Homo sapiens: one gene and its partners. The protein of the gene in region 3 interacts with the protein of the main gene of each other region in a biochemical or structural test. Each region holds a gene or a part of one and is shown on either strand. Other genes may lie near its edges. The genes, in order: NOP58, PRIMPOL and USP36.

Evidence for each region.
Region 1: of the proteins of USP36 (region 3) and NOP58, one has a biochemical effect on the other in vitro, tested with the Homo sapiens proteins (one study listed by BioGRID).
Region 2: of the proteins of USP36 (region 3) and PRIMPOL, one has a biochemical effect on the other in vitro, tested with the Homo sapiens proteins (one study listed by BioGRID).

The regions. Positions count from the first base shown.
Region 1 is NC_000002.12:202,260,771-202,269,460, reverse strand, and holds the start of NOP58 (nucleolar protein 58), read right to left. Parts: upstream 3,699-8,690; 5' UTR 3,520-3,698; coding exon 3,475-3,519; intron 1-3,474. UniProt on the Homo sapiens protein: Required for the biogenesis of box C/D snoRNAs such as U3, U8 and U14 snoRNAs. Part of the small subunit (SSU) processome, first precursor of the small eukaryotic ribosomal subunit.
Region 2 is NC_000004.12:184,687,074-184,694,937, reverse strand, and holds part of PRIMPOL (DNA-directed primase/polymerase protein), read right to left. Parts: intron 3,623-7,864; coding exon of another isoform or gene 3,584-3,622; intron 3,440-3,583; coding exon 3,357-3,439; intron 3,273-3,356; coding exon 3,226-3,272; intron 854-3,225; exon of another isoform or gene 729-853; coding exon of another isoform or gene 645-728; exon of another isoform or gene 417-644; coding exon 159-416; 3' UTR 1-158. UniProt on the Homo sapiens protein: DNA primase and DNA polymerase required to tolerate replication-stalling lesions by bypassing them.
Region 3 is NC_000017.11:78,802,227-78,810,090, forward strand, and holds part of USP36 (ubiquitin carboxyl-terminal hydrolase 36), read right to left. Parts: intron 5,411-7,864; coding exon 4,733-5,410; intron 4,095-4,732; coding exon of another isoform or gene 4,061-4,094; coding exon 3,930-4,060; intron 1,753-3,929; coding exon 1,159-1,752; intron 630-1,158; coding exon of another isoform or gene 310-629; coding exon 98-309; intron 1-97. UniProt on the Homo sapiens protein: Deubiquitinase essential for the regulation of nucleolar structure and function. Required for cell and organism viability.

The DNA of each region.
Region 1 (8,690 bases), on a different chromosome or scaffold from region 3:
ACACATAAGTGGGCAGAACACCGTACCTCATGGCTGTAATCCCAGCACCTTGAGGCCAGGAGTTTGAGACCAGCCTAGGCAACATAGTGAGACTCTGCCTCTTAAAAAAAAAAAAAAAAATTTAGGCCAGGCATGGTGGCTCACGCCTGTAATCCCAGCTACTTGGGAGGCTGAGGCAGGAAAATCGTTTGAACCCAGGAGGCGGAGGTTGCAGTGAGCCGAGATCACACCACTGCACTCCAGCCTGGGCAACAGAGTGAGACTCCATCTCAAAAAATAAATAAATACAAATACAAATAAATAAATAATTAGCCAGGCATGGTGGCTTGAGCCTGTAGTCCCAGCTACTCGGGAGGAGGTGGGAGGATCACTTGACCCAGGAGGCCAAGGCTGCAATGAGCCATGATCCTGCCACTGCACCCCAGCCTGGGTGACAGAGCAAGACCCTGCCTCAAAATAAATTTTAAATACATAAACATGAATTTGTATGTGTACATGGGTTATACATAAAATGTTTTCCTCACTGTAAATGGAAGTTTAAAAAAAACTTCAAGGCCAGGTGCAGTGGCTCACGCCTGTAATCCCAGCACTTTGGGAGGCTGAGGCGGGCAGATCACCTGAGGTCAGGAGTTCGAGACCAGCCTCAACATGGAGAAACCCTGTCACTACTAAACATACAAAATTAGCTGGGCGTGGTGGTGCATGCTGGTAATCCCAGCTACTCGGGAGGCTGAGGCAGGAGAATTGCTTGATCCTGGGAGGCAGAGGTTGTGGTGAGCCAAGATCGCGCCATTGCACTCCAGCCTGGGCAACAAGAGTGAAACTCCGTCTCAAAAAAAACAAAAAAACAAAAAACTTCAAAAAACTTCCTAAAGCATTCTCATCAAAGCATGAATTATATGCATCCAATATAATTTTTTTTTTTGAGACGGAGTTGTGCTCTTATTGCCCAGGCTGGAGTGCAATGGCACGATCTCAGCTCACCACAACCTCCGCCTCCCGGGTTCAAGCAATGCTCCCGCCTCAGCCTCCCAAGTAGCTGAGATTACAGGCGCACACCACCACGCCCAGCTAATTTTTCTATTTTTTTAGTAGAGACGGGGTTTCACCATGTTGGTTAGGCTGGTCTCAAACTCCTGACCTTGTGATCCGCCGGCCTCGGCCTCCCAAAGTGCTGGGATTACAGGCATGAGCCACCATGCCTGGCAACCAACATAATTTTATACCCTAGCATTTTGAAAGATTATGGGAAAGGAAACTAATAACTTTGAACCGTATGTCTACTTTTTTAGGAGATAAAATTCACCATATATCATATTAATTTTACATGTATCTTAATATTTGCCCTTTTAAAGTGTACAATTCACTTTTTAGTAGTGCATTTTCACAAAAATGTGCAGCCATCACTAGTTCCAGAACGTTTGTATGTCTTTTATACTCAGAAACGATCAATGTTAATTCCAATAATTACAAACTAATCAATGTCAACATATTCGAGCTTAACTAGTTATTTCTTTAGTACTAGGTTACATAAACCACAATTTAATCATTTTGAACAGTAACTTGCAGATAAATAGCACTGCAAACTCCAACGGAATACTCAAAGACATTTTCATGGAGGAGGACACTTTTCATTAATAGAAATCAGTAATTCATCGAGACACGGTTGAGTATTTTAGGACCCAGGTCTAGAAATCCGACCATTGATAAGCCAATTCCTTCCTACCATGGGAGACAACCAGTGCACTGTGCAGAGTTGCTCCTCTTCACATCCGGTACAGGACAGTATACTACGGCAATTAACGGTGAAATTCATCGATAGACACTTACAGACCACATTGGCTAAGAGAATTTGAAGCTATGCAGAACTCTACATGGTAATTTAGATAAGATTCCAAAAAGCTGGAGAAAAGTAAAATTGACATGTTTCGTAGCTCTAAAGGGGACTAAGGAGCTTACTTACAAGTTCCTTAAAACACTAATACGGCAATTGCAGATAACTCCAACTAAGGTAAAAACAAGCAAAACTGCCTTTTCGGTTTTAATGATTTTATTGGTTTTCTTAAAAATAACATTTGACGTATCAAATGCAAACTGCGTATTTTCAAATGTCAGAAGTGAAACATGGAGAACTCTGCACCCATCCAGACTTTCTTGCATCCACACCACAAATGGTTTTTTGGTTCATAGCTAAAATTGTATTACATTTATTTTTACCTAGCGTTTTTGCTTTCTACCAACATATATATATGTAGAATATACATAAAAACTTTATTTTTCATTGCTATATTCACAGACCTCAGAAGAGTTGCACCGCACAAGAAAAGGCACTCAATCTCACTCATTCTTCCTAACATCTCAACAGCATCTTGCGATACGAATGTCTTACCATTCAACCATTTCAGTGCTGACGAACTTGTCAAACTTTCCCCACGAAAACAACCAAACCTCAAACTGACATCACCAGCCCAGATGTTTTCCCCTAAGCTTCAAATCTGAAATACTGAACTGCCCGATCTACACAACTGCATTATCAGGTCTAATAGACAACGCAAGCTTCGCACAGCCCAAACCGGAAATCTTTAGTCCTTCCCCAAGAAACTTTCTTAACATCTTATTTAAACCAAAACCCCACATTCAATCTATTAGCCAGTCCTTCCTGTTCTACCTTCACAATTTCTATCGATATTTGTTTCTCTCCATACCAGGCAATTTCATCTTGTCCAAATGAATGCAAAAGTATTCTTGCTGCCGTTCTTATCTCCTCGAGTCTAATCTCCACACAGCAGAGTAACCGTATTAAGACAAATTAGCAGGTCATTCCTCTGCTTAAATCCTTTCGATTGGCCGAGCACGGTGGCTCACGCCTGTAATCCCAGCACTTTGGGAGGCCGAGGCAGGTGGATCGCTTGAGGTCAGGAGTTCAAGACCAGCCTGGCCAACATGGTGAAACCCCGTCTCTACTAAAAGCAAACAAACAAACAAAAACAACTAGCCAGGCGTGGTGGTGGATGGAGGCCTGTAATCCCAGCTACTCGGGAGGCCAAGGCAGGAGAATCGCTTGAACCCGGGAGACGGAGGTTGCAGTGAGCCAAGATTGCGCCACTGCACTCCAGCATGGGCAACAAGAGCGAAACTCCATCTCAAAAAAAAAAAAAATCTTTCGATCATTCCTCAAAACATCTAGAATAAAGTCCGAATTCCCTATAATCTGTTAAATTCTAACACGCCTCCTGCCCACCCCTTCAACGGGAGGAAATAAAATCCTCTAATGCAGAACGGGTCTCCCCAAACGGCGGGGCCACGTGTTACACGTAACATGGCTCTCAGGTGTAAAGGCCTTCTCCCTCCTCCCAGAGCCCGGGCTATAACAGGCACCCACGCTACTCTGAGTAGTTCCGTGCTTAAGTCTTTCCCTCTCCTCGTCTGTCCAGCATCCGCCTTCCCCCTTTAACGGCTCGCTCTCCCACCTACCTTAAAGATGGCGTAACCCACAGACGTTTCAAACAGCACCAACATGGTGAGGCCGGGTCAGGGCGCCGCACGGCCTGCCAGAAGCTGTAGAGTCAGTTCAAAAACACCGACTACGCGGCCTCAAAAGGCCTCCTAGGCCGCGGCGGGCAAAGCACAAATGCGCTCGCCGTCCCGCAAAGAATCAGAACACGCTGCCTAAACCCTCCACGCTGTACTGGAACTAGGACGCACGAACGCGCTACTCCTTCTCTGAGGATTCTGGGATAGCAACGTCACTTCCGACAGAAGACTGCCGCAGAGATTGCCGTCACTTCCAGAATGTTCCCGCCACAGCGGGCTGGGGCGGGCCGAGAAAGTTTGTATCGCGGGATCTAGGGCCTGAACGGAGCCTTTGCGCCTTTTTTTCTTTTTTCTTTTTTTCTTTTTTGGAGACGGAGTCTCGCTCTGTAACCCAGGCTGGAGTGCAGTGGTGTGATCTCGGCTTACTGCAACCTCCGCCTCCCGGGTTCAAGAAATTCTCCTAGCCGGGCGCAGTGGCTCACGCCTGTAATCCCAGCACTTTGGGAGGCCGAGGCGGGCGGATCACAAGGTCAGGAGATCGATCGAGACCATCCTGGCTAACACGGTGAAACTCCGTCTCTACTAAAAATACAAAAAATTAGCCGGGTGTGGTTGCAGGCGCCTGTAGTCCCAGCTACTCGGGAGGCTGAGGCAGGAGAATGGCCTGAACCCAGGGGGCGGAGCTTGCAGTGAACCAAGATCCTGCCACTGCACTCCAGCCTGGGCGACAGAGCGAGACTCCGTCTCAAAAAAAAAAAAAAAAAAAGAAATTCTCCTGCCTCAGCCTCCCCAGTAGCTGGGACTAGAGGCACACACCACCACGCCCAGCTAATTTTTGTATTTTTAGTAGAGATGGGGTTTCAGCATGTTGGCCAGGATAGTCTCGATCTCTTGACCTCGTGATACGCCCGCCTCGGCCTCCCAAAGTGCTGGGATTACAGGCGTGACCCACTAGGCCCGGCCTTTTTTTTTTTTTTTTTTTTTTTTTTTTTTTTTTTTGAGACAGTCTGGCTGTTGCCCAAGCTGGAGTGCAGTGGCACTATCACGGCTCACTGCAACCTCCAACTCCCAGGCTCAAGCGATCCTCCCACTTCACCCTCCGGAGCAGCTGGGACTACAGGCCTGTGCCACCACACCCAGCTAATTTTTTGTAGAGACAGGGTTTCACGATGTTGCCCAGGCTGGTCTCGGACTCTTGACCTCAAGGGATCCTCCCACCTCGGCCTCCCAAAGTGCTGGGATTACAGGCGTGAGCCACCGCGCCCCGCCACCGCTAGAGATTTAAAGGGGAAAAACTTCACGATATTATTTTGTTAACCCTCTATGAATTATATGTTCACTTTGAGAGAAACGAGGAGCTGTTTCGGTGCCAGTCTGCCTCAGGCATCTAGAATTTGAAATGCCAGCTAGTGCCATTAGACTTTATCCCCTTTCAAGCCCTGCCTTGAGGCGAAGGCCTCAGAATGACACCATTACTGTCACTATATTTGTGAGCATTCCTGGCCGTTCCCTTCTGTCTGGCCAAATGAATTATTAGCACAGTTTTCTTTCAATAAGCCTCTCCTATTTTTGCTGCATTTGTTAAAATGACCCCAGGGTATGAATTTAGAATGTCTTTTTTTTTTTCTTTTTCTTCTTTGTTTTTTTTGAGACGGAGTTTCACTCTTGTTGCCTAGGCTGGAGTGCAGTGGTATGATCTCTGCTTACTGCAACCTCTGCCTCCCGGGTTCAAGCAATTCTCCTGCCTCAGCCTCCCGAGTAGCTGGGATTACAGGCATGTACCACCACGCCTGGCTAATTTTGTATTTTTAGTAGAGATGGGGTTCCTCCATGATGGTCAGGCTTGTCTCGAACTCCTGACCTCAGGTGATCCACCCACCTCGGCTTCCCAAAGTGCTGGGATTACAGGCATGAGCCACTGTGCGGGGCTGAATTTAGACTGTCTTCTTGATTTAGTGTTACTTGCTTTTCTGGAAGCCTTTCAGTCTCAGGGACTGGGATTAAATACCCCAGTTGTTTCACAAGTCTGTCTTCCAACAGGGGTAAAATTTCCTTACTCACTTCCCAGGCCCTATATGCAGATTGTTCCTAATCATTAAATTGCAACCTGCTGGGAGAATTGCTTGAACCCAGGAGGCGGAGGGTGCAGTGAGCCGAGGTGGCACTACTGCACTCCAGCCTAGGCGACACAGCGAGACTCCATCTAAAAAAAAAAATTGCAACCTGCTCAAGATTGTGGAACATTAAATAGGTAGCAACTCTGCAACCTGAGATTAAGAGGAAAGAAAATCCTGGGTTGAATAACAGAAAGTCACAGGACAGAGGAATCTAGGGTGAATTCTTTTTTTTTTTTTTTTTTTGAAACGGAGTCTCAGTCTGTCGCCAGGGCTGGAGCGCAGTGTCGCGATCTCAGTCACGATCTCAGCTCACTGAAGCCTCTGCCTCTTGGGCTCAAGTGATTCTCCTGCCTCAGCCTCCCCAGTAGCTGGGATTACAGACACACGCCACCATGCCCAACTAGTTTTTGTATTTTTAGTAGAGACGGGGTTTCCCCATGTTGGCCAGGCTGGTCTTGAACTCCTGACCTCAGGTGATCCGCCTGCCTCAGCCCCCCGAAGTGCTGGGATTACAGGCATGAGCTACCACGCCCGGCCTAGGGTGAATTCAAGAGCATAATTGGCCGAGTGTATGGTTCACGCCTGCTATGATCTCACCATTACACTCCAGCCTGGGCTACTAAGCAAGACCCTGTCTCAAAAAAGAAAAAAAGCATGGTTGATTATAGTTACAGCTGTAATCCAGTGTGGTCAGGGAGACAAGAGAGACGAAAATTACCTGATTGGGAGAGGGGTATGCGTGGGTGGGTGAGATGTTAGAAACACCATGTCTGTTTATAGTGTTATTTAACTGCACAGTATTTTTCTGTCTAGTCTCCTTAGCAGAAGTGACATCTGCTAGAGAATTGAGTCTACTTTACACATATTTGTGTCTGTATAGGATGTTATGTTGTGCTACTCATGAAATAGAATCTAATTAATTCTTAAAAATTTAATGAATGAATGTCTGCAGGAAGTAAAAATTCTTTTCTTTACGTGTAAAGCCTTAAATCCTATTCCCAAAATGAAATGAAACCACTTATTCAATGAGAAATCTCTTTGCCATGGTATGTCCTAGAATTTGTCCTTGCACGTTACCATTTACATAGTCACCTCCATATGATGCTTTAATCAGGAGTTCAGAGCTGACTCTGATTTTGGGTTTGTAACTTGACCAAATAAAGTAATTGGAGATTTTCTTTCTTTCTTTTTTTTTTTTTTGAGATGCAGTCTTGCTCTGCTGCCCAGGCTGGAGTGTAGTGGCATGATCTTGGCTCACTGCAACCTCTGTCTCTTGGGTTCAAGCAATTTTCTGCCTCTGCCTCCTGGGTAGCTGGGATTATAGGCCCCTGCCACCACACCCTGCTAATTTTTGTATTTTTAGTAGAGATGGGGTTTCACCATGTTGGCCAGGCTGGTCTTGAACTCCTGACCTCATGATCCACCCACCTCGGCCTCCCAAAGTGCTGGGATTACAGGCATGAGCCACTGCTCCCGGCCAGTAATTGGAGATTTTCTCTTGCAAGGGAGAAGTAAGAGTCTTAGTACTTTGTTAAAGTACTGAGTGAAGGGGAGATAGCACAAAGAAATATAAGAAGGAGAATATAGGAGAGTACAGATGATAGAAGGGCTTACAATTTTTTTTTTTTTTTGAGACAGAGTTTCGCTCTTGTTGCCCAGGCTGGAGTGCAATGGCATGATCTCAGCTCACCGCAACCCCTGCTTCCCGGGTTCAAGCGATTCTTCTGCCTTAGCCTTCCGAGTAGCTGGGATTACAGGTATGTGCCACCACGCCCAGCTAATTTTGTATTTTTAGTAGAGACAGGGTTTCTCCATGTTGGTCAGGCTGGTCTCGAACTCCTGGCCTCAGATGATCTGCCCACCTTGGCCTCCCACAGTGCTGGGATTACAGGTGTGAACAACTGCGCCCGGCCAGGGCTTACAATTTTACTGGTGGCTAACATGGTGAAATAACAAGGATGAGAAACATGGTTCGTCTGTCCTCTCTGTACACCCCAACTCCACCCCTGTTCCAACTAGAATATAAACTCTATAAAAGTTAGTTGCAAAATCTGCAAGTACTAGGCTAGTATCTGGCACGTAGTAGAGATTCCATAAACATGACTAGTAACTAAGTAAATGAATGGATGAATGGAATGAGTGAATGGTGGGATAATTTCAAGGTGCTAGTAGAGCCTCCAGGGACTTTTTGGAACCTAATGAGATTAGCCAAAGACACCATTTTGGTCAGACACCTTCCATGTGCCTGGTAACAAGAAGGGGATGTTCTGGGTGGTGAATATCTTTTATGTATTCAACAAATATTTGAGTGTCTACTCTGTGCCAGGCATTCTTTTTTTTTTTTTTTTTTTGAGATGGAGTCTCACTCTGTTGCCCAGGCTGGAGTGCAATGGTAGGATTTCAGCACTCACTGCAACCTCCACCTCCCGGGTTCAGGAATTCTCCTGCCTTAGCCTCCTGAGTAGCTGGGACTATACAGGTGCGCACTTCCACACCCGGCTAATTTTTGCATTTTTAGTAGAGACGGGGTTTCACCATGTTGGTCAGGCTGGTCTCAAACTCCTGACCTCGTGATCCACCCACCTCGGCCTCCCAAAGTGCTGGATTACAGGCGTGAGCCACTGCACCCAGCCTGTGCCAGGCATTCTTTTTTTTTTTTTTTTTTTTGAGATGGAGTTTCGCTCTTGTTGCCCAGGCTGGAGTGCAATGGCGCGATCTCCGGCTCACCGCAACCTCTGCCTCCTGGGTTCAATCAATTCTCCTGCGTCAGCCTCCTGAGAGCTGGGATTACAGGCCGCCACACCGAGCTAATTTTTTATTTTTAGTAGAGACGGGGTTTCTCCATGTTGATCAGGGTGGTCTCGAACTCCCTACCTCAGGTGATCCGCCCACCTCAGCCTCCCAAAGTGCTGGGATTACAGGGATTACCACGCCCGCCTGTGCCAGGCATTCTTACAGGCACTAGAGACACAGCAGTGAAAGAAACATGTAAAAATCTCTCTACTTATTATTACTCTTGTTTTCCTTCTCAGAGAAGTT
Region 2 (7,864 bases), on a different chromosome or scaffold from region 3:
ATTTTTAATGAAATTGGTTTACAGAAGTAAAAAACAAAAATTGGAAAGCAAAGTAATAAAACTTAGTTTATATAAACAGGTTGAATGATATATTTATCAAATCTCACAGACATCAGGCAAATTATAGCCTGGTGACAAAAGTGTTCATAGTGAATTAGTTACTCTTGTAATACTTCTATAATTAGTTCATCAGGAATTTCATCCACTTCACTGTTATAACTGAGAAGACTGTTCTCTGCAGCTTCAGCTAATTCAGCATCTTCAGTAGCTTCTAAAAAATAAGCATCATCAATGCCATTATCCCAGACAGCATCAGCAGATGCACCTGTTGACAGCCTGCTAGGTGATGGTTTATGAGGATTCTGGGTTTCATTGCTCCTAGTTTCATCTGCTTCATCTGTTGTAAACTCTTCTTCCTTTATTTCAGTGGTGAAGGGATAGAGAGTGGGATAGGAAAATATTTACTCAGGATATGTGATTTAACCTTATACTCTATGTTGAAGTAAGGTATTAAGTGACAGATACTAAAGTGAATATGCAGGAGGAATGCTGTCTCCGATATCTCACCGTGGGAATGAGTGCACTGATTCAAACGTTGCTGCACTGAAGCTCAGACACACTTGAAACTCCAAATTTGAAATTACCTACAGTTCTGTGCACATACTTTTCAATACTCCCCGACGGAAGAGCAAGGGTGGATTTAATTTTTTAACAAGTGGACAGTCCAGCTGAAGACAAATCAGAAGATAAATTTGCTATCTTGACAATGGACTTAGTACCCATGCTTTAAATTTTAAAGTATTTAGCAAATCGTAAACATGGATTGAAAAAAGATTAAAAACAGTTGCCAAAATATGACTGGATTGTATATTACATAATAGTATTGTATCAATTATTTTACCATAGAATGTCTTCAGTATAGACATTTAGTTGATCCGCCCAATACATTATTTATGTAAAGAATGTCCTTATTCAGTGCAGTGGCACGTGCCTGTAATCCCAGCTACTGGGGAGGCTGAGACGGGAGGACTGCTTGAGGCCAGGAGTTTGAGACCAGCCCGGGCAACATGATACCCCCCTGTCATTAAAAAAGCTACAGAATGTCTTATTCTTTCCGCTACGTGCTTAAATATTAGATGAAGGGTTTTGATGTCTGCAGTTTAAGAGAGTCATCAAAAATAATGCGTATGTATACAGTAGAGGGAGAAAACCAATGTGGCCAAGTGTTAACAAATGGCAGATCTCAATAGAGGACAGACAGCAGAGTTCCTTATTCTTGTACATTTCTGTAGGTTAGGCCTTTATAGTAAATTTAAAATCAAGTGACCAATGAAATATCAGTGCAATAGAAAAGCAGGTATAAATAACACCAACTGGTAATTTAAAATATTTGTTTTAAAAAACAAGATGAAGCAGGAGAGGCAAAATGTTAACTGAAAACTAAGTGACAGCTACATGGGTGTTCATTATATATCTTACTTTAAAAAGTTATGTCCAAGTAGTGGTAATACTGACCAATGGTACTTTCAACTTGGCATTTTTGAGGTGTTACTAGATAAGCGGAAAAAGTAGCTTAAAAATCCACTGCAACCACGAATATCTAAATCACAATCCAGACTAACAAGGGCGATGCAATCCTCCTCCTCTTGGAGACAGTTTATTTTTTAAAATTTACTTTGTTCTTGGTTATTTCAAAACACATTTTAACCTGGTATTTTGCCAGAGAATCTGGCTATCAGTTATTTTATGTCCAGTTCTTGCAGACCAAGAATGGAATTTCCACCATTTCAAACATATGGAGTTTTTTCGAGAGACGTGTTAAGACTGAGTTTTCTAGAATATAAACCCCATCACCTGTTCTGCTTGTAGCAGGTAACTTCTTTTATTCTATTAACACTATAGAGGAGAAAGCTGACAGATGTGACAAAAAACAAAACACAAACTACAATTTAAAAGTGAAATACGTCAAAAACAGTACTTAATTACTGCAAAAAAGTTACAGAAAAATGGACAGAGGACAGGTACAGGCACTTCATTATAGAAATACTAATAGTGAATCCGAAAAAAGTTCATTACAGAGATGCAAATTAAAACAACTGAGGTACTGCATTTTGCCTACCAGATTGGTAGTGATTCGAGGTAAACAAGCACTGCTGGCAAAGTGTGAGGTAATAGGTGCTCTCATAAATTATCTGTGGAGGTCTAATATCCTATACTTTTTATGGAGAGCAATTTGATAATAGGTACTAAAAATATTTGTGATACTTTAGAAAAAAAACTGAAATAGTATGTGTGCTATCACTTCAAAAAAAAAGAAAATGAGCATACATAAATTCTCGAAGGTACGTGCCAAAACGTGTATCATTTATTTCTGGTCAAATGAGTAAGGAAGATTCTTTCCTCTTTGCTTCTTGTGTATTTCCTAATTTTATGTATTTTCTTTCTTTTTTTTTTTTTTTTTTTTTTGAGGCAGAGTCGCTCTGTCTCCCAGGCTGGAGTGTAATGGCGTGATATCAGCTCACTGCAACCTCCACCTCCCAGGTTCAAGGGATTCTCCTGCCTCAGCCTCCTGAGTAGCTGGGATTATAGGCATAGGCCACCACACCTGGCTAATTTTTGTGTTTTTAGTAGAGATGGGGTTTCTCCATGTTGGCCAGGCCGGTCTCAAACTCATGACCTCAAGTGATCTGCCTGCCTCAGCCTCTCAAAGTGCTGGGATTACAGGCCTGAGCCACTGTGCCTGACCTAATTTTATGTATTTTCAATTCATTCTACAATGCACGTTAATTATTTGGGTAAATAAAAAATCTTTAAGAGAAAAATGTTGGTTTGACAACCTGGTAATACCTACCAAAATTAAAACTGAATATGCCCTTTGACACAATTCTACTTCTAGAAATTCATCCTACAGATACAGATGTTCAAAGAAATACAAAGATGGGTATTTTGTTACTTTGAAAAGCAAAATATGGGAAACTTCTTAAATGTCTGGGACTGATTAAACTGTACACCTCAAGCAGCAGTAAAAAAAAAAAAAAAAGGTTTGTATTATCAGATATGTGCTGAAATGGGAAAATCACTACAATATATTCCTATAATACAGTCATAAGTGAAAACAAGGTAGCAAATGGGTTTCAATGCTATTTGGACACTACTCATGGCTCAGGTATACTATTGTACCAAGAACTCCCTGGTAAGGAGAAAGACACTAAAATCTGTACTTACCTCTTTGAAAAGAAACAGGAGACATACTTCAGCAGGTAATGGGAAACCTGAATCAGAAAGATAGCAAAACTATTACATATTACAGTTATCTAATTTTTACTTTGTGGTAAATGTAAAAATTAGTAACTTACAGTCAGATTTGAAGTTTTCTGCTTTACATACAGGGTCATGACATTTTTGATACCAAACTTCATTTTTCAGATCAACCAGAATCCTTTATGTTTAAAAAAAAAAAAAAAGTATTAATACCAAGACTGGGTAGAAAACAAAATCCAGCTGCATGCTGTTCCAAGAAATATGCCTAAGACTTAAAGATGGAGAAAAATTAAAAAGTAAAAGGATAAGGATAGATACATACCAATCAAAACGGTGGTTGCCAAAAATCACACAAAATGAACTGCAGGGCAAAAAGTAGATACTGATGAAAGTTCCCCCAGGAAGATGTAACAATTCTCAACCTGTACTCACCAAATAATACAGCTGCAAAATATGTGAGCAAAAATGGACAGGACCACAATGATAAACAAATCTACCATAAATCAAGGTTTTTAAAAAACATACTCTCAGTAATTTATAGATCAAAGGATAACCACAAAAAAGGTCCAATAAGGATACAGAAAAAATGAATGACAAAAAGCAATTAAGAAGTTTGATCTAATAGGTAAATATGAAGCAGTTCTTTATAAAACCAATTCCATGCTAGCTATAAAGTGAATTTTATCAAATTTAAAATCATCACTTCATACAGAACACATCTGAGCATAAAGCAAATTTTAGAAATAAAACTAATAGAAATCCATAATTTGGAAATTAAGAACAACTTGAAACAACCAATGGTTCAAGGAAAAATAGTGGAAATTAGAAAACGCTTAGACCTGAGTGGACTGGAAGTGTACATATTAAAATATGTGAAATGCAGCTAAAGTCACCTTTAGAGGGTAATTTATAGTCTTAAAATCTTGTGTTATGAAAGAAGAATAGCTAAAGATACATGGATTAAGTGACTAACGTGGAAAACAACGAACTGAATAAAGAGACCAGCCTGGCCAACATAGTGAAACCCCGTCTATACTGAAAATACAAAAATTAGCTGGGCGTGGTGGGGGGCACCTGTAATCCCAGCTACTTGGGAGGCTGAGGCAGGAGAATCACTTGAACCTGGGAGGCGGAGGTTGCAGTGAGCCAAGCTGGTGCCACTGCTCTCCAGCCCGGGTGACAGTGTGAGACTCTGTCTCTAAATAAATAAATAAGTAAATAAATAAATAAAAGGCAGGCAGTCATAAAGAGACAAAAGTAAAAAGAATCAACGAGGCCTACATTTGAAGAAAATGAAATTAGGGTAAAATTGATTTAAAAATAAGGCAAAGACACAAATGTTATTAGAAATTAAATGCATCATATGTTTTTAAGAAAACAATATTGTGAACAACTTTTGCCAGTAACTTTGAAAGTTTTTGTAAAATAAAGTACTACATAAAAATAAACTAAGCAAACTTAAAAAGCAACAGAAAACCTAAACAATCCTATAATCACTAAAATTCTTAAAGATTTGATTAAATAGTTGAAAATGTTCCCACATTTTACAGAAAAGGAAATAAGATGGTTAACACTCCCCATGGCAGTAGGTGAGGTGTGGGATGGGGAGGTGGTAAGGGACCTGCACCCAGGAGCAAAAAAAGGCAGGTGACTTAGTCTAATCTTCCCTTAAACATTCTAGTAACAGGCCTCCCAATTAATGAGCTAATAATGCTGTGGCTCCCAAACTGTACAGGAAGGTGCCCCGGGCACTGCAGGATATTGAAATACTGCTAGAAAACACAGTGATACTTGACATTTCTTGAGCAATCTGAAAACTCCTTGCCTGCAGTTCACATGTGACTTCATTCCTTTCATTCATGCTCCATCTTTGTAGAGCTGGGCTTTGGGGTGTGGTTGTAATAGAAAGCACCATTAACATCAGGCCGGGCATGGTGGCTCGCGCCTGTAATCCCAGCACTTTGGGAGGCCGAGGTGGGTGGATCACAAGGTCAGGAGTTCGAGACCAGCCTGGCCAACATGGTGAAACCGCATCTCTAATAAAAATACAACAAAAATTAGCCAGGCGTGGCGGTGGGCACCTGTAATCCCAGCTACTCGGGGGGCTGAGGCAGGAGAATTGCTTGAAGCCAGGAGGCAGAGGTTGCAGTGAGCCGAGATTGCACCACTGCACTTCAGCCTGGGTGACAGAGCAAGACTCCATCTCAAAAAAAAAAAAAAAAAAAAAAAAGCACCATTAACATCAATGGAGAACAAGGTATGAGTTGGGGAGGGTGGGGTCTAATCTGATTCCAGGGTTTAAGAGTGCATACATAGGCCTGGTGAGGTGGTTCACACCTGTAATTCCAGCATTTTGGGAGGCTGAGGTGGGAGGATAGCTTGAAGGCTGGAGTTCAAGGCCAACCTGGGCAAGAGAGGGAGATCCCACCTACAAAAAATTTAAAAATTAACCAGCCATGGTGGCACACCTGTAGTCTAAACTACGTGAGAGGCTGAAGCAGGAAGATCGCTCAAGCCCAGGAGATCAAGGCTGCAGTGAGCTCCTGCACTCTGTCCTCAAGCCTGGGCCATCACACTGCACTCAAGCCTGGGCGACAGGGCGAGACCCTGTCTCAAAAAAATGAAAAAATGGAGAGTATACATCCCATTAATAAGTAATTGTATTTAAGAATGAAAAGTGGCTTTTTTTTTTAGTTTATGGATACTATTATTCAAACTGCTACTAAACTGTTCGGACATAAACACTTACCAAGTTGTTTGAAATTCATTACCAGAGCTCGGGTATTTCTGTCAGCCTCAGAGAAAATGTGAAGAAACAAAGACACCAGGGGAACCATGAACCAAGAAAATCGGGGAACGTCTGGACCAAACGCTAGGAGTTCAGTCCTTACCTACAGAATGCTCTTCGTAGGACGTTTCTGACTTTAGAACTGCATTTGGTAAAAAGTCTAGAATCAATGCATTATGAGGCATGCTTTCCGGAAATGTCACCCAGCTGTGCAACTTGAGTGTAAAATGCAGGTGATTCACAACCTCGGTGCTTCCTGCTGTGTGCATGGATTGCTCACGCCTGCCTCGGGTTTCCTCCTGAGTCAGAAAGAGCAGGAAGGGCCAGGGGAGCCGGGCCAGATGCCCCGGGCCTCACTCTGCCCCATTTGTGCCTTTTCATTCCTTGTATTCCTACATTATTAGTAAAGCTTGACACTGGGCAAGATTTCTGATCTGTGTGGATGTAATTTGATTATCCATCCTCAACTTCATTAGTAATCAGGGAAATTCCCAAGAAAACTACAATATTGTTTTACATCTGCCAGATGAGCAAAACCAATTTTTTAATCCTAACAATACTAAAGTGTTGGTGAGAATATGGAACAGTAGAAAAATCTCAAAACACTGCTGGCAGGACTATAAACTGGCACACCCATTTGGGAAAACAATTTATGATCTAGTAAAATTAATTATGTGCATATTCCACGACACAGCAAGTCCACTTTGAGAAACTCTAGCACATGTATACTAGGTGATATGTACAACACGGTTCCCACCTTCACGGTTTATAATAGCAACCCAAATGTCCACTGTGGGAAAACAGATAAACTGTGGCCTATTTATATTTATACACATGGCATGCTGCACAATAGTGACACAAATAAGCAACAGCTACATACTGCAACGTGGGTGAAAATCACAGATATGCTACCGCAAGGCAAGGGAGAGGATGCGATTCGAAAACAAGCAAAAGAAAACACTATATTGTTTATGGCCGGGCACGGTGGCTCATGCCTGTAATCCCAGCACTTTGGGAAGCCAAGGCAGGCAGATCACCTGAGGTCGGGAGTTCGAGACCAGCCAGACCAACATGCAGAAACCCCGTCTCTACTAAAAATACAAAAAATTAGCTGGGCATGGTGGCGCATGCCTGTAATCCCAGCTACTCGGGAGGCTGAGGCCGGAGAATTGCTTGAACCCGGGAGACAGAGGTTGCAGTGAGCCGAGATCGTGCGATTGCACCCCAGCCTGGGCGACAAGAGCAAAACTCTGTCTCAAAAAACAAAAGAAAAGAAAAAGAAAACAGTATATTGTTTAGAGATATGAACGTATATGGGAGAAATCATAAAAGCGAGGAAAAGATGAACACAAAATCGGGATACTGGCTACCATCTCTGAGGGCCAGGGAGAGAAGGAAATTGGGGTTGGGCCCACAGGTGCTTCTGAGGTTTGATCAGCTTCTGGTTGTTAAGGTGGGCGGCAGATACAACAGGTGGTCACTTTAGTCTTTAAAATGTGCGTATACAAGTGTGTTATCGGCTGGGTGCGGTGGCTCACACCTGTAATCCCAGCACTTTGGGAGGCCAAGGCGGGCAGATCACTTGAGGTCAGGAGTTTGAGACCAGCCCAGCCAACATAGTGAAACTCCGTCTCTACTAAAATTACAAAAATTAACCGGGCATGGTAGTACACACTTGTAATCCCAGCTACTTGAGAGGCTAAGGCAGGAGAATCACTTGAATCAAGGAAGCGGAGGTTGCAGTGAGCTGAGATCATGCCACTGCACTCCAGCCTGGGCAACGGAGTGAGATTCCATCTCAGAAAATAAAAAAAA
Region 3 (7,864 bases):
GTCCCCCAACCCCTCGCCCGGTGCACACCCATGCGGTCCCCCAACCCCTCGCCCGGTGCACACCCATGCGGTTCCCACCCCCTCGCCCGGTGCATACCCATGCGGTCCCCAGGACACCAGCCATTCGCGGATGGTGCGCAGCTGCTGGACTCGGGGACAACAGCATCTTGGGGCTTGGCACTCCTTGGGCATTTGAGATGCCCATCCTCTTCTACTGCCCGCTGTGTCTCCTGCTTTCTTTTTTTCTTTTTCTTTTTCCTTGGAGACTCTTCCATGGCCTCTGGATCACCATCACCCATGGGAGAGCAGCTGCTTGGAAGTGAGAGGCAGCAGTCAGCTCTGAGCAAATTGGAAGGGGAGCAGGAGCGCACAGACACCCGCCTGCAACATGGAGAAGGTGCCACCCCAGCTGTGACCCAGTGCACGCAGGTCCCTGCAACATTCTTCCCCCCACACGCATTAGCGGACGCTCCACACGCAGCCACGGAGACAGTAGAGGGAAAACCAGTCGCGTTTCCCATCCTAACTGAGCCAAGCCTGTTGACGCCAATGTGCAGGCTACTGTGACCTGATGAAACGGCAGATCCTGGCCTGGCCCGGGACACCTGATCCAGCATCCTTGAACGGCCCTGCACATACAATGATGGACACTACTGTCCACACCACTGTCGCTTCAAGGATCAATCCACTGGTATTTATCAGAGGAGATATTTTTTCTTTTTTCTTTTTTTTTAGACAGGGTTTAGCTGTCACCCAGGCTGTAGTGCAGTGACGCGATCTCAGCTCACTGCAACCTCCACCTCCTGGGCTCAAACCATCCTCCCACCTCAGCCTCCTGAGTAGCTGGGACTATAGGTGCATGCCACCATGCCCAACCAATTTTTGTTTTTGGTAGAGAAAGGGCTTTTCCATATTGCCTAGGCTGGTCTCAAACTCCTGGGTTGAAGTGATCCACCCGCCTCAGCCTCCCAAAGTGCTAGGATTACAGGTGTGAGCCACCACACCCAGCCAGAGGAGACATCTGATCACAAATCCACATTTTAGAAAACCACGCAAGCAGACTACGTTTCCAGACCATACCTACTTGGGGGTAGATTCTGTGGTTTTGCTTTGTTTCTCGTCAGAGGTAGACAGATGCCACTTTGCTCCTGCCCTTACCTGTGCCGAAGTGGGTCCTGGTGCAGGCCGCCTTCTTCACCAAGACCTTCTGCTCCTTTCCTCCTCCGCTTCCTGCTGCTCGCGTGGTGGCCGTCCGTAACACATCCCACCTGCTGGCCATTCACCTGTGGCTGTGTGCCATCTTCCTGCCGTCTGACAGCGGGCAGCTGTGCCTGGCCCTCCCTCCTGTACATGGGGCTCCCAGGCTGTCTCTGTGTCTGCCCCTCCTGCAGGGCGCTGGCAGCTGTGTCCTCCGGGCGCTTCTTCTTCTTCCTCTTCCTCTTCCCGTGGGGAGCCGCAGTGGCCTCCCTGATGTGCTGTGGGAGGCGCGTCTCTGAGCCCAGCCTCTGCGGCTCTCCCACAAAGGTCTTTTTCCTCTTCTCAGAGGGGCTCTGGGGGGGCTCACTGGCCTCTGGCAACTGGTGTGGAAGAGACACAAGGTCCTCGTTGACCTGAGGCAGCGCCGTCGAGATGGAGGAGCAGCTCCGTGGTTCTGACGTCCCTGGGGGCTTGGGGGTACTGGACAGCAATGTGGGGTGGGGGCTGAAGGGGGGTTGCAGGCGGCTGGATGATTGGGGAGCAGGTGACACAGCCCTGTGGGGACAGCCAGGAAACAGGGAGAGGATGTTCTGAAAGACCCAGCAGAGCTGTTCCTTCTGTCTACCCTCACTCCCCTCCCTTTCACCTAAAAATCTGAAAAGGCTTTTACCCTGTAGTTTTCAGATACACATTAAGTTACATGTATGTTTGAAAGAAAGCTAACAATTAATTCAACATCTATTTAAATGCAAAGTTGGCCAGGTACAGTGGCTCATGCCTATAATTCCAGCACTTTGGGAAGCCAAGGTGGCTGGATCACCTGAGGTCAGAAGTTTGAGACCAGCCTAGCCAACATGGTGAAACCCCATCTCTACTAAAAATACAAAATTAGCCGGGCGTGGTGGCACACGCCTGTAATCTCAGCTAGTCAGGAGACTGAGGCAGGAGAATCGCTTGAACCTGGGAGGTGGAGGTTGCAGTGAGCCGAATCGCGCCACTGCACTCCAGCCTGGGCGACAAAGCAAGACTCCGTCTCAAAAAAAAAAAAAACCAAAAAAACAAAAACAAAAACAAAAAAAAAAAAACAAAGTTACCTAGGTGGTGGGTTGATAGGTGCAGCAAACCACCATGGCACCTCTGTAACAAACCTTTACATCCTGCACATGTACCCTGGAACTTAAAATAACTGATCCCTGAGATTTAAAAAAAAAAAAAAAAAAAAAAAAAAAAGCAAGCCAACACGTGATTTTAAAAGTCAAAAAAAAAATTTTTTTTTTTTTAAAAGGCAAAGTTAATAAGAATTGTTCCATGCCTTAGTTTCTTGTCACCAAGCAATTCAAGTATTTTTGCGAGCTCTAATGTAAAAACATCTTTAATACAAATGTGTTAAGGGAGGAAACCTTCACGAAACAATAAATGGTAAGGAAAAAAAAGATCCCGTGAGGATTTATTTTCCAACCTCCGAAAGTCTCAGGGTGTTCCCGGGCAGGAAATGAGCCTCATAAGGAAAGCAAGTGTTGAGCTGGCCTAATGACACCTCCACATTACCGTCATTAGGACGCTGAAACCGGGACACAGATGCGTAGAGCAGAATCATGAGCAAGGCGTGTCCGGGACAGGATCTAGTGCCGAACCCAGTGAGGCTCCCTCTTGCCAGCTATGTGTCTCTAGGAAAATTAACTTCCCACTCTGAACCACCATGTTCTCATTTGTCAATGAGCTGGGACCACAAAGCCCACCTCCCAGGGTTCCTGCAGAAAACAGGACCCCCGTCATCATCTAAACAAACTATAAGGGCCATGCCAGCTGCACGATGTTTGATTACTCTAAGTGTCTTCTGGAATCTTTTCCAAAAAAGCTTATAAGGCAAGAAACGAAAAACACCCAAACACTTAAGGCCCTCCCACGTACACAAATCTTATGCTAGGTATAGGGCAGAGGTGTGCTTGTGTGTGTATATGTGAGAGGAGAGTAAGGCAGAGGCTGTGGGCGACGCACAGTCATACCTCGCCCTCATGTAGCACTGGAGATTCTAGAACTAGAACCCAGCGCCGAGGCCACCAGTACAGTCCCCGCAGGCCGCCTCATGACTCACCCCATCTTTCACTGCTTCCGTCCCCACTCCCAGCGGCTTCCAGACAGCCATTTACCAGTTACTCTCAACTTCCTGCCACTCGAGGCACCTAAGAGACGCAGGCAGCCCCTGCGGACCAGGGCCCACATGCACAGGGAAGGGGCTGCATCTCTGGCAGGTGTCTGCAGAGGAACCCGAGAGCCCTGAGACAGTTCTTAACCTGCATGACGCTAGCAGGCAAGACGTCCCACAAAAAACGCTCGGGACTCCGAGCTCACTCAAGCCTCTCGCCAAGGCCTCACTTCGCCTTTCTCTTCGACTGGGAAGTACTGTCATGGGGCTGGTAGGGATACAGGACAGGTCAGTCCCCAGCACACCACATCACCACAAGGATGTCGCAGACAGACCACCAACAAAGACAGAACTAAGACATCAGGACTGCAGAGGCCGAACTGCCTTCACCACCCAAAGCTCCTTTACCACAGGGGAACACAGAAGAGGGGGATCTTGGTCAGTGACGCCCCCCTGTACCTCCTGGCTGCCCCAATGCTTTGTCTGTCCTGTGAGGTTGGCGATTCGTCCAACTCCTCACCAGCCAAGCACACGCAACCACAGGGAGAACCAGTTGGCACCCAGAAGATCCCGGCCCAAAGCTTACCTGGCTCTATGGACGGGCCAAGTGGAGGCAACGACGGGGTGAGAGGTTTTCATGGGGTGGGTGAGGTCGGAGGATGGTGAGGGGGGAGGTGGACGGAGGTCATTGCCGGTCGCCCTCCACAGGGTGCTGGCCTGCAGTTATCGACATAAATAAAAACTTGGTGGTCTAAAAAAGGTTTCCGTGAGTGAAGAGGGAAAACAAAAGTAACAAAAAATGAAAATAAAAACAAAAGAGCCCAGAAAAAAAGATGAGGAGACAGAAGAAGACAAAAAGGGGAGGTGAGGGGCAGGGGAATGGTAGAAGAAGAACCAGAAAAGTATTTTTGGTTAGAAACAAAAAAAAGGAAGAAAATTTAAACAAAAATCTCAGCACAACAATCACATCCACGTGCCGTGGCTGCCCAAGCTTCCTGCTGCAGAGGTGCCGGGCACCCCACTGGGGCTCTGCGCTTCCTGCCCGCCCCACCCCTGCTAGGGACACGTGCTGGTGGGGCCCACCCTCCCTCGGGTTCAGTCAGGATCTTCCACCTACTGTGAAAACAGGGAACTGCTACCTTGCCCAAACCTCCATGAGTCACATGAGCATCACCAGATCAGGGCTCTCTCAACACCCCATACTGCCTTCACCCCAAGATAGCCGTTCTTTAATTGCAAATGGCTGGGAACGACTAAAAGACACTTTGTTCCTCTAACATGAGGGAGGCCAAAGCCCCCGGACAATGTTCTCACTCCCTTCAAACCACAACCAAGCAACTCTTGGAGCTCTCCTGATACACAGCAGCGGCGAGACCCCCACACACCCACCTTCTTGGCAGAAAGGGCCAGTTTTTTGGCTGGTGGAGGAGACATGGTGCTTGCAGGCTCAGTGGTGGTGTTGCTCAGGACAGGGGACTTCAGCTTCACCGTCTTAGAATCTGCTCCACTTGGCGGCGTTTTGGAGTGGCCAGCGGTGGAACAGTTCGTTTCCTGAGAATCGCAGAGATGGGCCGCTCCACTCCTGGGGGTCTGGGGGGCCTTGGTGGAGTCGCTGCTGGCCGAGTGCTCTGGGCTGGAGCTGCTGGAGCCCCTCCTGTCGAGGCCAGCGCTCTCGTCGTTCCCCTTCAGCCCATGCCCGTTGGCAGTGGCTGTAGCCAGGAGCTTAGGTGAGGTAGAGAGGACAACATCCCTGCTGTCCCAGGAGCCCTGCCTTTGGCTCCCAGATCTGCTGCTATTCGAGTTGCTGGTCCCAGGCAGCCCCTGAGCAGTTCTGGGGGAAAAGTGCTGTGGAGGAGCTGGCTTCTTCACCTTCTTTCCAGGGTCGTCTAGGATGGTTGGCATGTGTGTGGGTGTCTGGGAGAGTTTGGGGGAAGGGGACCCCGAGGGCAGCTTTGGAGGAATGCAGCCGTTCTGGGACTTCAGGCCCAGGGTGGAGCCATTCCTGGATATGGGCACACCAATCTCTTCAGTGGTGTGCGGCTTCTTCATCGTCCCAGAGTCTTGTCGCTAAGGAGACCAAAGCAGAAAACACAACTGAGGAAGCGAGAAGTCTCAGCTGGGCCACATCTTCTTAAGGCCACAGTGAATCTTAGTAGCAGGCATGGCCTCTGATTAGCATGCTCAAGATAAATTATTTATCTGGACTCTTGGTAAAGACACTGTGGCTTCTCTGAACAATTCTGGTGTTCTGTGACATCCCAAGAACAGGGACCACAGCCGTGTACCACCACACCTGGCTAATTTCTGTATTTTTGACAGAGATGGGGTTTCACCATGTTGGCCAGGCTGGTCTCAAACTTCTGGCCTCGAGCAGTCCACCTGCCTCAGCCTCCAGAAGTGTTGGGATTACAGGTGTGAGCCATAGCACCTGGCCTGAATACATATCTTTATGGCCACCTTTACTATAAAACCAGTACATTTTCATCAAGATTTGGGAAGAGAAAAAAGTATAAAGGAAGAAATTTAGCAAAGTTCCATCACCTAAACATAACCATGCATTAACATTCTAGTGCTTTCTTTTTTCAATCTTTTCTTCCAAATGGTTCTGGCCTGAAGAGTTGCATCCCAGTTTTATCTTAAAGCTATTATCTCAAGCATTTTTATGGGCGATAACTCTCAATAAATATCTTTAAGACAGAGCCTTGCTCTGTTGCCCAGGCTGGAGTGCAGTGGCATGATGATGTCATCATAACTCACTGCAGCCTCAACCTTCTGGGCTCAAGAGATCCTCCCACTTCAGCTGCCCAACTGGCTAGGACTATAGGAGTAGACCACCACACCCGAATAATTATTACTATTTTGTAGAGATGGGGATCTTGCTATGTTGCCCCGGCTAGCCTTGAATTCCTGAGCTCAAGCAATCCTCCCACCCTGGCCTCTCAAAGTGCTGGGATTACAGGCCTGAGCAACTGCACCCTGCCTGTCGGCCTGTCTTTGACATTTTACTATATATACTATGTACTACTGATACACATTAACTGTATGGTTAATTTATATAAGCTATATTGTCTCCAACTGTTGAAATTAAAAATACTGTACAGTATATGTGTGTGTATCCTTTACCCTTCAGAGCACTTATTACAACTGCATAGAAATAACTTATTATTCTGTATTTAGATGCTGAATGTCAGCCTTCCCCTGCTTGACCAAGAGGCTGTACCCGTTATCTCTCTCGTTCCCACTGCAGCCCTCACCAGCAACTCAAGGGTCTGGTATAGAGTCGGTGCTTAAAAAATATTTGTTGAGCTTTTCCTGTACTTAGTACTCCATGCTAATTTTCTGGAAATGGAATTACAAGGCTAATTTTCTGGAAATGAAATTACAGATTTCATTTTCATGAAATCTGATGCAAAATGCCAAACTGCTTTTACTATACTCCAGCCACATCTATTTTTCAAAACATTTGCTAATTTGACACTCGTTTGGGCTATTACCACTTTAACATTCATATTCTCTGCACATGCACTAAAGTGATCTTCATTTGAATGAGATCTTTTGTTTACAAATGTTAACCTTTTGTTGACAATATTTTACAAGGTTTTATTGCTTCATTTGTTTGTAGTAAATTATGTACAAAAATGTAAATCTTAGTCAATTCATAATTCTTCTACATTTTATCCTTCAACTTTAAGCATACAAAGTCTTCTTCCCTTCCCAGAGGTTAAGAATTTACCTCTATTTTCTTCCAAGTTTTGTTTTGTTCCCTACATTCTATTCTTTGTTAATACTGTTTTCTAAAAGGAATTCATCTTTCCACTGCACCGCAAAGCCGTTTCACTGGCTGAACATTTCCATACACACTAGAACTTGCACCATGTCATTTAGAGTAAAACGGCTCGTCTGCTTGCAGTGTATTTGGAAAATCACGTTTGTAATGAAAATGCTCATGGTCAGTGAAGCGCCCCTGCAGGTGTGCCTGACACAGGGACTCTCCTTGAGCCAATCTCCACCCTCGGGCATCACTCTGCCCATGGAGTTCCTGTGGCAAGTGGGGCTTCCTTTGTTTTTCTGGGGTTTTTTGAGACAGGGTCTCATTCTGTTGTCCAGGCTGGAGCGCAGTGGCACAATGATAGCTCAATGCAGCCTTGTGTTTAAGTGATCCTCCTGCCTCAACCTCCAAACAGCTGGGACAACAGACGTGCACCACCACACCTGGCTAATTTTTGCACTTTTTTTGGAGATGGGGTTTTGGAGATGGGGGTCTTTCTATGTTGCCCAGGCTGCTTCCTTTTTTTGAGATGGAGTCCCGCTCTGTCACCCAGGCTGGAGTGCAGTGGCACAATCTCAGCTCACTGCAACCTCCACCTCCCGGGTTCAAGCGATTCTCCTACCTCGGCCTCTCGAATAGCTGGGATTACAGGCGCACGCCACCATGCCCAGCTAACTTTTGTATTTTTAGTAGAGACAGGGTCTCACCATATTGGCAAGCTGGTCTCAAACTCCTGACCTCAAATGGTCCAC